Linked DNA regions of Homo sapiens: regions 1 and 3 are each linked to region 2. Evidence: fine-mapped expression QTL. A gene starts in region 2. Each other region holds a variant in brackets. All regions are shown on one strand. Distances are from middle to middle.

What was found. PIP is the estimated chance that this variant, and not a neighbour inherited with it, causes the effect. A credible set is the group of variants that fine-mapping cannot tell apart.
Region 1: its variant is fine-mapped to the expression of CACNA1H in whole blood (INTERVAL, PIP 0.99).
Region 3: its variant is the best candidate, but not a certain one, in a credible set for the expression of CACNA1H in whole blood (TOPMed, PIP 0.56).

What each region holds. Positions count from the first base shown.
Region 1 is chr16:1,207,440-1,211,927 of GRCh38, reverse strand. It overlaps CACNA1H (calcium voltage-gated channel subunit alpha1 H), which reads right to left. Exons shown (of 35, transcript NM_021098.3): 15 at 4,068-4,158; 16 at 3,707-3,915; 17 at 2,516-2,896; 18 at 1,793-1,893; 19 at 1,435-1,558; 20 at 1,277-1,345; 21 at 957-1,141; 22 at 634-760; 23 at 322-447; 24 at 123-212. Among named protein-coding and RNA genes, the nearest start is that of TPSG1, 16 kb to the left of the region's middle. The variant C/T (reference allele first, on the strand shown) is at 2,522.
Region 2 is chr16:1,150,916-1,155,506 of GRCh38, reverse strand. CACNA1H (calcium voltage-gated channel subunit alpha1 H) reads right to left here and starts at 2,401. Exons shown (of 35, transcript NM_021098.3): 1 at 2,037-2,401; 2 at 1,471-1,787. The coding sequence starts at 1,769. RefSeq lists enhancers at 780-1,547, 2,922-3,502.
Region 3 is chr16:1,216,187-1,220,777 of GRCh38, reverse strand. CACNA1H (calcium voltage-gated channel subunit alpha1 H) reads right to left here. Exons shown (of 35, transcript NM_021098.3): 31 at 3,768-3,846; 32 at 2,738-2,859; 33 at 2,127-2,568; 34 at 1,648-1,808; 35 at 1-797. Among named protein-coding and RNA genes, the nearest start is that of TPSG1, 6.8 kb to the left of the region's middle. The variant T/C (reference allele first, on the strand shown) is at 1,775.

The DNA of each region.
Region 1 (4,488 bases), 56 kb before region 2:
GGGTCCCCGCCCGCCTGCCCCGCCAGGGGCCCTACCCAGGATGGCCCCCCGAGTCCCCAGAGGCCAAGGCAGCCGCTCGCGGGAGACCCTGAGGTGACCCAGCTCGACCCGCCTGTGCGCACCTGCTGGTCGACACCCACGGCATCCAGCCCGTCGTACATGATGTTCACCCATCCATCCTTGGATGACAGCACGAACAGCGACATCAGGGCCTGAGGGCCAGAGCCAGGGTCACTGGCGAGGGTTAGAGCTGGGGTCGCCGGCCCTCTCGCTCCAGGGTGTCCTGGAGACCCCCAGCTCCCGCCCGGCCGCCCAGCCCACCTGGCCCAGGTTGTCGAAGTTGTACTTGCGTCGCACCCAGCGGTAGTGGGCGGCCCGGCACTGTGCCTTGGTGGAGATGTTCCTGGTGTCGGGGCCCTCGCAGTAGTAGAACTTCCCTTTGAAGAGCTGACGGGGTGCGACGGTCACCGCGGAGGGCCTGGCCTGTGCCCCACCCCACACCGGACTTCCTGGGGCGCGAGTGAGGCCCGAGCTGTCCCTCCCCGTCCCGCAGCGGCGCTGCTGGGAGCCACGCTGGGAAGGCAGACCCTGTCTGCGACGGGGCAGACCCCCGGGCACGTGGGGGCCACACACCTGCACACCCAAAATGCCAAAAATGATGAAGAAGGCGCAGCAGATGAGGACGATGTTCCCAATGGGCCTGAGTGATGATATCAGCGTCTCCACCACCAGCTTGAGGCCCGGGGCCCGGCTGATGACCCTGGAGGGGAGTGAAGGATACACTGCAGTCATCTATGGCAGCAGCTGCCAGGCGCCGGCAGAGCTCAGCAAAGGTCCCAAGGTGGGGCCGAGTGGGCGGCCTGCGAACAGCCCAGGACTGCGGGAGGAGTAATGGGCAGTGGCGTCAGGGGACTGTGCTTCCAGGTTGCCCCGGGAGCCCACGGGGAGCCCCCCACCTCAGAGGCCGCAGGGTCCGCAGCAGACGCAGCACGCGCAGAACACCCAGGATCTTGGCGCCACCAGCCGAGGCCATGGCCACGACAATGTCCACCAGGGACACCAGCACCAGCAGCCCATCCAGCAGGTTCCAGCTGCTCTGCAGGTAGGCGTGCTCGCCGGACAGCAGCCCCAGGGCCACCACCTGCGGAGGGCCAATGGCACTGAGCTCAGGCTCAGGCGTGGGGGGTCTGGGGAGCTGGCGCGCTGCTGGGTGGGGGTGGGGATGAGGGCAGAACGGGGACCTGGGAACAAGGGCAGTCCCCGGGCCCCGCGGTACCTTCACCATCATCTCCGCCACGAAGATGGCCGTGAAGATGTAATTGGAGACGCTGAGGAAGACCCGCTCCTGCCGGGAGAGGACGGTGGGGGGCTGTGTCCACTCCACCCCTCCCTGGGGGTCGTGGTGGCCCGGGACGATGGGGTTGGCTGACTCACGGTGCTGCCGGGATCAATGTCAGGCCTCTCCAGGGCGATGGTGACGCAGTTGAGGAAGATGAAGACGAGGACCACGTGATCAAACATCTTGTGTGTGATGACCTTCTGGCAGGAGACGCGGAACCTGGGTGGGCGGGGGCGGGTGAGAGGTGGGGCGGGGCGGCGTGGATGGCAGAGTGGATGGGGGTTGCAGGACAGCCCTGGCCACGCCTCCACTTCAGCCCCGGTCCCTGCGGTGTGAGAAGGGGTGCCCACTCGGAAATATCCACCATGTGCTAGCCCCACCCAGGAGGGACCTGGGGGCGGGGGTCCCGTGGGGTGGAACTAGCCATGCAGCCTCCTGACCCGGCCGCCTCACCGGTTCTGTGGGGAGAAGAGGTAGAGGGCCCAGGCCTCGCGGCTCCGGCACCACTGGGGCTTGTAGGGCTCCAGCACTTTATGCAGGCGGAGGCAGCAGCTCTGTGGGATGAGGCGGCGGCTTCTCAGAGCCTGCGCCTGCCTGCCCGGCCCCCCATCAGGGCCCTCTGTGCTCAGCTCGGCCACCCCTCCCAGCACCTTCTCAGCCTTCTCCATCCTCACTCCTCACCCGCTGGCCTTTGGGCTCTGGCTTTCTGGCCTCTGGGGCCCATACCGTGGAGCCTCCCCCTTCCCTACGCTGGTGACGGCAGAGTGACCCGTGCTGGAGTCCACGGGGCCAGGTGAGCGGGTGCTCTTGGGTCCCTGACTCTGGGAGTGGTCCTTGACCCACGGAAGCCTGAGAGCCTAGCGGATGCCTGGCCCTGCCTCGGCAGCAGCTCTCGGCCAGTGGCTGACCCACGGCGCAGAGCCCAGCCCCCGTATGCAGGCCGTGCGTGGAGCGTTTAGCTCACAGCCCCTAGACGGCAGAGGGGGGACTCTGGGATCATCTGTGGCTGAATCCCTGAACACTGCTGGATTCCTCCCTGGCCTGGCCTGCTTCTCTCCCCTTCTGAATCCCCTCAGTCAACAACACGCCCTGAATCCCATCTCAAACCCCACTTGAGGGAACCTGCCCCAGACAGACGAAGGCGAGTCGGCGGTGGGCCCAGGGCCACGCACTCACGTCCTC[C/T]GAGTCGTCGTCAAGCTCGGCTGCATCCTCACGGTGGCTGTCGATGCGCAGGAAGAAGTCGCTGGGCAGGGCCACCACCTGCCCGTCGCGATCGCGGCACTTGGTAGGCGGGAGGGCGGCCGGCCGCAGGGGCCGTGGGTCCAGGGACTCGGCCCGCCGCAGTGGGGTGGCACGGGGCCCGGGCGCGGCCCTGCCGTCCTCAGCTTCGTCGTCGGTGCTGCCCTTGCCCTCGCCAGACAGCAGGGACTCACGTTCCCCACACTGGCCGCGGCGCTTGAGGCTGGGGGCACGGCCCAGGCTGCTCCAGCTGGAGCGCCGGCTGCTCCAGGCGCCACTGGGGCCCCAGGGGGCACAGGGAGAACTTCGGAGGCTGGCCTGGGGGGTGGCGGGAGTCAGTGACCTGGTGGCATCACTATTAGCACCGACCGCTGTCATTACGGAGCACCCACTGTGTGCAAGCCACACGTGGATCATTTAATGCATAGCCCCGCCAGGGAGGCACGGTGGAGGCTGTGATTTTAGGGGGACACCGAGCCAGCCACAGGCGTAGCTCATGAGGGTCAGGGTGTCCGCCTCGCGGGGGTGATGCCCTGGGCTCTGCTGGGTCAGGGGCCAGAACCAGCCCAGGACCAGACAAAGTGTGGGTGGCCCCCGTGTCCCCAGGAGCACACTGGGCCTGCGGCTCTGCCTCACAGCTGCCCCGCTTCCTCCCCTGCTAGGGCGTCTGGCTCACTCCCATCCTCCGTGTCTGTTGTGGGTGGTACTGCCTGGAGTTCGTTTCAAAACTGCTCCCCTCCAGTCCCCCTGGACCCAGAGAGATGCCCTGGCCGTAAAGGGAATCGGGCTGCTTCTGGTGGCAGCGGAACCCCCGCCTGGCCTGCCGTCTGCTTGCCGGGCACGCTTCTGCCCCTGCTTGCTTCGGTCTTTCTGTGCTGTGCGCTGTGCACTCTGCTAGACTGTTGGGCGCACAGAGCTTCCGCGTCTGCCCCTTCACACCGGCCTCACACAACAGCAGCCACAGCTTCCATTTCCGGAAACCAGAACACTCTTTCTCAGTCTCTGCACAGGCTGGGACTTCAAGGGTGTGGGGGGTGCGGCCCTCACTCATCTTCAGGGAAGGCCATAAGGAGCCAGGCAGGGAAAACCTGAAGGGGCCTGAGAGCTGGGGCAGGAGATGGTCCCTACCGGAGGCTTCTGGTCTCCCAGTGGCGGGTCCCCGGAGCTGCTGCTGCCACGCCGAGAGTCTGGGAGGCTGGGGGCTGCATCCAGGAATGGTGAGCTCTTGGGGGTAGGCATGGGCGTGGCAGCTGTGCACATGATGAGGGGAGGGGACAGGCTGCCTCGTCCCTCCAGGTGCCCGTTGGGGGTCACGGCCAGGGAACACATCTTCAGCTCTGCGGGACAGAGGGAGGAATGGGCCCCTAGAGCTGCCAGGCTCCCAGGACCAGGAATCCCCCAACCTAGGGATTGCCTTATGGGGGCCCTGCCCGGCCAGCCCAGCGTACTCCACCCGCCAGAACCCGGACCACCCACCGACCACACGCACCTGTGGTCTGGAGTTCTCTGAGCTTGTGGAAGTCCTCCTCGAAGTGGACCGACGTCTTGTCCTCGTCCGTGTCGGATCTGTTGGCATCGCCCTAAACCCAACAAAGCACAAGGCAGGCATGAGGGGCCCCGTGAGTGGGGACCCTTCATGCCGGACAGAAGTCTGGGCTGGCCTGGGAGGTGGGGTGTGGACAGAAGGGCCCAGAGGATGATGTCACTGCCAGGGTGGGCAGGTAGGTGAGGAATCTGCCTCTCCCGACCGACCCCTGCCCACTCCGCTGGGCTCCTGGCCTCCCCTCTCCTCATGGCAGCCAGCTTCCCTTCTCTATCCCTCACCTCTTGGCAGGCCCCCCACACCCCTCCCCTCGACCTGAAGCCCGTCTCTCTTCTCATCGCCCTCCTCCTGGCAGCCCCTCTCCCTG
Region 2 (4,591 bases):
GTCCCTTCCAGACCCTTCCCCATGGCCTGCTGGCACCGCCGGACTAACCCCACACCCAGTCACCTCCTACCAGAACAAAGGGGCATGACCACCTCCCGCCTTGGTTCTAGAGAGGAGACAAACCTACAACCGCTCTTCAAGGCCGGGCCTGCACCTCGGCTCCCGGGGACACCCACCTACTCGCAGACACCACCCTGAGGCTACAGAGGCCTAGGCCGCCCGGGCAGCGGGTGTGGGGCTCCGAGGCAGCCCTCTGGCCGGGGCCGGCTGCCCCCGGGACCACAGCAGCCTCCTCTTCCTCTACAAGCAGAGATGAGTCTGACTCACTCGATGTTTGGATTTGAGAAAGGAGAAACACGGGCTTTATGACTTTTTTTGTACAGATTCCTCTTTCGTGTTTAATATTTGTACAGTTAAACACACAAGGTAGGGAAGTGTACACAGGCCGCTCCTGCTGCCAGCCTGTCTCCCCACCTCCGACGGGGGACGTCTGCGGGCAGGGTCTCTCCACCCGTCCCCAGGCCCGGAGCAGAAGCCACGGCCTGGCCACCCCAGCTGCCGGCTCAGAAGGGCCGGTGGGGAGACCCGGCCCTGACACAGGCACCACGCAAGGCCCTTCTCAGGGCACGCGGAGACCCGCCCCCAAGGCCACCTGCTGGGGGGCCCCCTGGACCTCCGTGTACATCCCACAAATGCCCCTGGCCCTGACCCAACTCTGTTCTGGAACCTTCTCTGCAGTCTGTGCCGCTCTGGCCGAGAGTAGAAGAGGCTGCCTCTTCCTCTCCAGCCAGGGAAGGGGCTGGGGAGATGAGACTCCCCCTTGGCAGTGCCAATTGCCTCCCTGCCCCCTACCCTTCAGCTGCGCATGACTTAAGTCAGCCCCGCCACCGAGTTCAGCCAGAAAAAGCGAGTTCACAACCAACGTCACCGCCTCTCTCCACGGAAAAGGCCCTGGCGGCGCTCACAGGCCCCACGGGTCTCCCCACGCACTCGGAACCACCAGGCGCCGGCTGAAAACTTTGCGCCCCTGACTCCAGCTCCTCTGGCCTCCCCCTCCCCCGCGAGGGGCCTGCCTCGGGCAGGACCTTCAGACAGTGAGGGGTGGGCAAGGGGGAAATTCCCGTCCTGGCCAACACCCTTGGGGCCGCGAGGAGTTAGGACCTTCCCTCCCTCCCCGACTCCTCTCCCCTCCAAGCCCGCGGGGGCCTCACCGCTTCGCTTCCACCTTCTCCGTCCGGAGCCGGCCCTGGGGAAGGGAGTCCGGAGGCGCCCGGTGGCCCCCCAAGCCCGCCACTCTCAGAAATTAGAGCGCGGTCCTCCAGCCCCTGCCCTGCACCCCCGCGCGCCCGGCCCACGCCAGGTCCCACCAACAGGGGCGCGCGGGGGCGCATGCCGAGGGAGTCCCGCGCCCCGGGCCCCCACCCTCCCCACGCCCCCCGCCCCCCGCCCCCCGCCGGCCGGGAAGGATATGGGTTGCAGACCAGCCGGAGGCACCAGCTGCGCGGCCGCGTGGTCTGACCGAGGCAGAAGAAGACCGTGGCCGCCAAGGCCGGGTACGGGACGCGCTGCTCCTCGTCGGCACCCAGCTCCGCGCCGCGCTCGGCCGCCGGGCTCTCGGAGGGTGACACGCCGAGCTCGGACCCCCGCTCCGCCTCGCGTCCCGGCGCCCCGGGGCTCTCCGGGGACGCCCCCACCAACGCCGCAGGGCCAGGGGGCGGCGCGCCCAGGGGCACCCGGACCTCGTCGGCGGCCCGTGCGCCCTCGGTCATGGTGGCGGCCGGCAGCACCTGCAGAGGACAGGGGGTGACCCGGGGCCGGTGGCGACGCCCCCGCCCTGCCTCCCGCGGCGCGGAGCTGCGGGAACAGCCGCGGCCGCCGGGATGTCTTTGTCTTTTCTTATTAGAGACAAACGCGCCCCCCGCCCCCGCCCGCCCCCTCCCTCCCTCCAGCGGCCCCACCCCCACCCCGAGGGGCTCCCCGGCCCGCTTCGCGCAAGTTGAAGAGGGTCCCGGGCGCGCGTCCTCGCCGCGTCTCACCTCGCTCTGCTGGCCGGCGGCGTCCCCGCGGGCATCGCCCGGGCGGCGCGGTCACCGCGGACCCCGCTCGGCGCCCGGCCCCGGCCCCGGCCCCCAGCGCCTCCGCCCCCGGCCCCGGCCCCGGCCCCCAGCGCCTCCGCCCCCGGCCCGCGTCCCCAGCCCGCCCGGCTCCCGGCCGCGGCTCGACTCCGGCTCCGGCTCGCCCGGCGGAGGCGACGGCGGCGGCCTCGGCGCGGCGTGGAGGCCGCTGAGCGGACGGGTGAGGCCGGGGCGCGGGGCGCGGGGCGCGGGGCGCGGGCCGGGGACCGGTGAGGCAGCGAGCGAGCCTCGAGCCCGTCCGCGCGCGGCGCAGGAAACTTCGGGCTGAGCGGCGGGGGGCGGGGCGGGGCGGGGCCGGCGCGACCGGGGCGGGGCCAGCGTGGCCGGGGCGGGGCCGGGGGCGGGGCGGGCGGGGGGGTACTGGGGAGGATCCGCCCCCGGCCCGAGACGCGCGCGCCCGAGCGACCCCTCCCTGTCGCCGCCCGGCGCCCCGCCCCCCCCCGGGTGCGGGAAGTTGGACCCCGCCCGCGCCCCCTCCACGCCCCCGCACTGGGCTCCCCGCTTTTCGTGCTCCCCAACAATGCCGGGCGTGGGGTGCACCAGGGGGCGCTCGCGGGAGGCTCCGGCGGGGTGGGAGGGGGAGCACCTACGTCCTTCCCTGCCCCCAACTGCGGGGGCGGCCGAGCCGCCGATGCCGCGCCCCTCCCCCTCCCGCTCCGGCTCCCCCTCCCCCTTCGCGCTGCCGCGCGCGCCGCCGCCGCCCCCACCCCCACCCCCACTACGACGCGGGCCCGGGTCGGCGGAGGGGCGGGGACCGGGCGGGCGTGGAAGGCGAGAGGCTGCGTGCCCCTTCCCCGCCGCGTGTGTGTCCCGGGTGTGCCCGCGCGCGCGTGTGTGATGGGGCGCGGGGGCGGGCGGGGGTGTGCTTTACGGCTGGGCGCTCCTGCACTCGCATCTCTCCCCGACACGCACGGGCAGTTTCCGCGAACTTGTCCTCGTCTCCGGTCCCCTCCCGCGTGGGGATCTGGGGGACCCTGGGGACGGCAGCCTGGTGCTCCTGCATCCTCCAACCCCGCTGCCTCAGCGAGACTCACCCAGGGGCCCCCGAGGAGAAGTGCAGGCCCCTTCCCCCTGCCAGCAGCTGCTCCTTCAGCCAGGCCAGCAGAAGGGCCTTCCCCTGGACCCTCAGAGCAAGTGGTTTGGTCGGGAAGGGGTGGACCCTTCAGACATTGGGGATGGCCAGGCCCTTGTCCCAGGGAGGGCTGGCCGCACCTCGAGGTGCCAGCAGGTGGGGGCAGGTGCCCAGGCTCCTGACTCCCCCCAGGGCACCCCTCCAGGCTGGAAGGGTGGTTTTGCTTCTGGGACCACTGCTTTGTGCACCAGGGAGCTTGAGCTCCCAGGTGTGCACCTCAGCACGCCCGCCAACAAGGGGCCCCTGGTAGTGGGAGAGACCCCTTCTCCCTCCAGACAAAGAGGCCCTGCTCCAGGGCGCACCCTGAGACCCCAGACCCGGAGAGGCTGTGGGGCGGCTGTGGCTTCCCACCTGCGGGTGAGCAGCAGAGAAGCAGGACCTCCCCCGGGTGGGCCACATCGTGCAGGGTGAAGAAGAGGCCCTGCCCAGCTGGGGCCCGGAAGGACACACAGCACCTGGGGTGGGCCGAGGAACTGGAAGGCAGGAGTGTGGGGGCCTGGCTGGGGTACAGGTCCTTTCAGCAGCACCTCCTCCTGTATACGGGAACTTTCAAGAAAAGGAAAACATTCAGTCTATTTTAATGCAACTACTCAGCGATGGAGGGCCACAGCTGGTGAATTAGGCCTTCAAAGGTCCAATTAAGGTTCCAGCCACAGAGGAGCAGGACCTAGGAGAGCCCCGTGCTTTGGACACATCCGTGGAGGGAGGCTGGAGCAGGTGGGGAGACACAAACGCTGAATCGGAGTCCGGTCCAGAGGGCACTTGGAACCTCTGATCTTTTTATCAACACCCTGCTCGTTAAAAGTTAGGGTGGGCCAGGTGCAGTGGCTCACGCCTGTAATCCCAGCACTTTGGGAGGCCGAGGTGTGTGGATCACTTGAGGTCAGGAGTTCGAGACCAGCCTGACCAACATGGTGAAATCCCGTCTCTACTAAAATACAAAAATTAGCCAGGCATGGTGACATATGCCTGTAATCCCCGCTACTCGGGATGCTGAGGGAGGAGAATCACTTGAACCCAGGAGGCAGAGGTTGCAGTGAGCCGAGATCACGCCACTGCACTCCAGCCTGGGTGACAGAGTGGACTCTGCCTCAAAAAAATAATAAGTTAATTAATTAATTAATTAAAGCTAAGGCAAAGCCACAGACTGAAGCTCCAGATTCTAGCTGGGGGCTGTCGTTGATTTGCTGGACAAATGGTAGTTGAGGGTGGACAGTGCGCGGGGCCCGGTTGGAGGGTGGAGGTGCCTTGGCTGTGACCAGACAGACCCGGTTCTCATGCCTGCAGCTTCCGTCTTATGGGGAGGAGAAAACAGTTTCCAAAC
Region 3 (4,591 bases), 65 kb before region 2:
AAGAAAGGGTCTCCACTGGGGACCCCGAGGTCCAGCGGCTCAAAGGCAAAGCTGGGGACGGTCAGGTGCTCAGCCCGGCAGGAGGCCTGGCCCCAGCGCTCCCCCTTGGCTGCAGGGTCCCCCCCGGCGCCTGAGCCCTCTGTGGGCTCCAGGGAGTCCCTGTGAGGCGTGGCCTCACAGGACGGGGTCCTGCGCCTCAGTGTGGTGCTGCCGCCCTCTGCCGCGGAGGGCCGCGCAGAGCCCTCGTCCTCCGCAGGGGGTTCCACCGAGATGCAGGGGGGGCTCATCTTCTTCTTTCTGCGCGCACCCAGAGCGGGCTCGGCCTCAGGGCCCCAGGCCTTCGCCTCCCCAGGCTCCCCGCTGCCCAGCTCCGCCGAGGGCCGCCACTGCTCGTCTGCCCGGCCCGGCTTGTCCAGGAAGCCCTGAGCATCCACGCTGTAGAGCCTGCGCAGGTCCCGCTCGCCGCCGGCCACCGGAGAGGCTTCGGGGCCATGGGGCTCGGCTGTGGGCTGCCAGGGGCAGGCGGAGCTGGTGATGTGGCTGACCTCCTCGTCGGCTGGGTCCGAGGCCTCGGCCTCCTCTCCGCCTGGGGCCGCCGGCCGGCTGGAGACGCAGCGCTGTCCGAAGGTATGCTTACGAGTGCGGACGCTGGCGGGCCGTGGGGAGCGTGGTGGGGACTGCAGGGAGCCCCCCTGGGTCACCGGCCTCACCGGGGTTTTCTCACCAGGCTCTGCAGGATCCAGGGTGTCCCTAGGGCTGTCAATCTTCCCTTCCAAGGAATCGGTGTGCACAGCCTCCTGTGGGGGCGTAGAGTCAAAGTGAGGGGCGGGGCCCTGGGAGAGCCCTGTCAGTGGCCAGGGCTCGGAGACCCCTCACCATCCAGGTACTGGAGAGGCCAAACTGGGCAGGTCCCCTGGGTGGCTCCTGACCCTCGAGATGGGGCTGGAAGCCGCTGGTGTGGACGTCCTAGTCTCACTCCTGACCTGTGAGGCTCCCGGGGAAAGCCTGTACCCGCTGCTCTGTGGGCAGAGATGCCATGGCCCCCAGGGGCACAGAGCTGAGGCTGAGGCCACCTCCCCACCCCTGGACATCAGCAGCCCAGCTGGGCACCCCCAGGATGGGGCTCTCCTAACTGCTCCTGTGCGGTACAGGCGTCTTGTACTGGGCAGCAAGAGGTAGGAAAGGGCAGGAAGAGGAGCTGAGGCTGCAGGTGGGCAAGGCTGGGACATCTGAACACAAGCCAGGACTGAAAAAGCCGCTGTCTGCCCACCACGGGACCCATGCCCACATGGGGCCTGAGAAACTGCCATCTGCCCGCCGTGGGCCCTGGGAAACTGCTGTCTGCCCACCACGGGACCTGAGAAACCGCTGTCTGCCCACCGTGGGGCCTGAAGCTGTGGGTCCAAGAAGACTCAGGTCCCTGTAGCCAAGAGCTCTGTAGCCACAGGCTCACAGGCCTGAAGACGCACCTGGGCCCAATGCTCCAAGATCCACCAAGCAGCAGGCAGAAACCTTCGGAGCCCCAAGGACCCAGTGCGACCCTCCTCCTGCCTTGTCCTCGTCTGCTGGTCCTTCAGATGAGACGAGGCATCCCTGCAAGCCCCCCATCCCCGCCAGCCTCTGCTGCAGGCCAACGGCTTCTCCTACCTGTCTGCAGAGCAGCCGGCTGAGACTGGGGGAGCGGGCTGTGCCCCGAGGGGACAGGGCGTGGAGGGGCTCGCCGCTCCTGGCTGGGGACGACACAGCCAATGGGATCTGGAGGGAGGCACAGGAC[T/C]CTGCGGGCGGAGAGTGCACAGAGGCAACGGAGCCTGGGGCAGGGAAGAATCTAAGCTGGCAGCTCTGCCCCTGCCTTCCTGCCCAGCTGCCACCCACCCCCGTCCTCCCCCAACCTGCCACCATCCTCCTTCCTGGCCAGCCCCAGCCCGACCCGTCCTCTCTCTCACCTGCCCACACCCAGCCTCCTCAATCTGGCCTCCATCCTCCCTCCTGCCTGCCCCCATCCTCCTTCCCGCCCATCCTTCCTCTTGCCCTGCTCTGGCCTGACCCCATCCTCCCTCCCACCTGCCCCCATCTTCCTCCCTGTCCTGCTTCCCACCCAGCCCATATCTTCCTGCTGGCTACCATACCCAAGGGGGTGCCGGCCCCATAGGTCTCCATCTCCACCTCCTGCAGCGGGCGGGGGTGGGGCGCCGAGGCAGGCACCACGGGCCTGAACATGTAGCTGTCGTTGGGCAGCGAGAGCATCCTGGACACGGACACCTTGCGTGCAACCAGGTTTGGGGCGTCCCTGGCGCCCGGACTCTCCTGGGGCAAGGGAGGCCTGTCCGCGTCCACCCGGCGTGCACTCCCGGGGCCCTGCGCCATCTCCAGCTCGATCTCGGCGTCCAGCTCCGCATCCTCCCGTGCCTCCTTGTTGCTCTCCTCCAGGTGCTTCATGAGCACGGCCACCACCACGTTCACCAGCACGAACTGGGCCACCAGCACGAAGGTCACGAAGTAGACGGGCGACAGGGCCGGCAGGTAGCTCAGGCAGTGCTTGTCCTCACGGGAGCACTCGCGCAGCGTGTCCTGCGGTGGGGGACAGCTGTGGGCCGGGGTCCACACCCACCCGCGGGTGCCACCCTGGCAGTGCCGTCCCCTTCCCCCTGCCCTGCAAGGACGGATCCGACCCGTTCCTGGGAGAGCCTGAAAAACCGCTGGGGCTGCCAGGTGCCAGAGGCATGGCCGCGGCGGGTACCTTCATGATCCCGTTCCAGTTGTCCCCCGTGGACACGCGGAACAGCGTGAGGAAGGCCATGCCGAAGTTGCTGAAGGTGGCGTGCCTGCTCAGGCCCTCGCAGGGGTTGTCTTCACTGCACTCTGCGGGGAGGGAGACCCCGCCCGGTCAGCCGAGCCCGCTCCGGGTGGAGGCGGGACATGCACCCAGCCTCCACATGCCCCTTGGGGAGCCCAGAGGCAGGATAGCCCGGAGGATGTGGATGACGAGGCCCTGGCGGTTCGCCCTGCCTGGCAGAGGGTGACCCTGGGTGTGAGGTCGGAGCCCCTGGGCCGAGGCCCCTGCTGCCGCACCTGGGCTGGGGCTCATCAGGCCTGGCGGCTGCCATGGAAGAATCATTATTGTGTGTGTCTGTGACTGCGCGTGGCGGGGGATGAGTAGGCGCCGGCTGACCAAAATCAAGCTTACCTGGTGGACAGACACTGGACTGTGGCAACGCCACACCCACCGTCGGGACAGGGCCCGGGGGAGGGCCCTGCAGGGACTGGGCTGCCTGAAGTGGAACCCGGCAGGGGCAGGGCTGGGCCGTCTAAGGAGGGTCCCCACCTGCCCCGCCCAGCCTGGGCCGAGGCTGAGGCCTGGGTGGGGGCCTCAGGAGGCTACGGCCACCAGGTAAGGGGAGACAGCCAACATTTGTCTCCTGGGACCATGTGACGTTGGGCATGGCGTGTGTTTCCAGATGTCTGTGTGTGCACGTCTCTAGGTGTTCTTGCTTCCCCTCACGTGTGGCAGGCATCCCTGTGTCTGTGTTGCTGTGTGCACGTCCGCACACGTGTCACAAGCCTGGGCACATGCCTCTGCGTCAACACGAGACTCGGCCTCGTGCAGAAAAGGCTCCGGAAGCAGGGCCGGGTGAGGACGCCCAGGAGGCGTGTGGCCCTGATCAGGCCCCACGCTATTTGCAAGCATGTGCCTGCGTGTGAGTGGATGGGCACAGGGGCGCCTGTCAGGACCCCATGTGTGCCAGGAGGAGGGCGCAGGAGCCACTCACCCAGCCTCCCGAACAGCTCCACTCCCAGCGCAGCATAGATAAAAAACAGGAGCATGAAAAGAAGGCCCAGGTTCCCCACCTACACAAGAGAGAAGCAGAGCTGGGTCAGACGGGCGGGCAGGGAGGCCTCAGCCCACCCTGCAGGGCACTCGGCGCCTCGGCCACCAGACCCCACCTGCCCACCTTCTTCCAGGTGCTCCGGGCCCGGCCAAGTGGAAGCAAGTTCCCAGAGCTGGGCGGGGACCCCTGTTCCTCAGCCCCATGCCCCTCTCGGGGCACCATGACCTCACCAGGTAGACAGAGCCCACCCCTCTGTGCTGGCCCGCACTGGCTTCTCTCTTCCTCTGCCCTGCCCCTGAGCATCAGCCTCTGGCCCAGAGCCCACTCCACACTCTGCCCAGCAGGTTCCCCAAGGCCTAGCATGCTCTTCCTGGGGGCTCTGGCCCGCCCTGTTCAGCGGCTACCTCAGAGATCCCATGGCGGGGCCCAGGCCAGCACGCAGCTGACTGAGGGGTCCCGGCAGGTGGGCCTGGGCCTCACCCCTCCCCTGCCACGGCTCTCTTGTGAGCCACCCACCAGCCCCAGCATTTGCACACACTGCCCCGCTGGGCGGCGCACCCTCCAAGGCTGGCCAGGCCTGTCCTACGCCACGCCCCTTCTCTGCACAGCTGAGCACCTGGTGGAGTGGTACCTGGCCCTCGGGAGTGTTACTTGGACGAAGCTAGGCACGCCGCTGAGGACAGGGTGAGTGGGGACAGCTGAGGTGGGAGGCAGAAGACAGGCAGGGGGCAAGTGACAGATGGCGCAGGGACAGGAAATGGGTG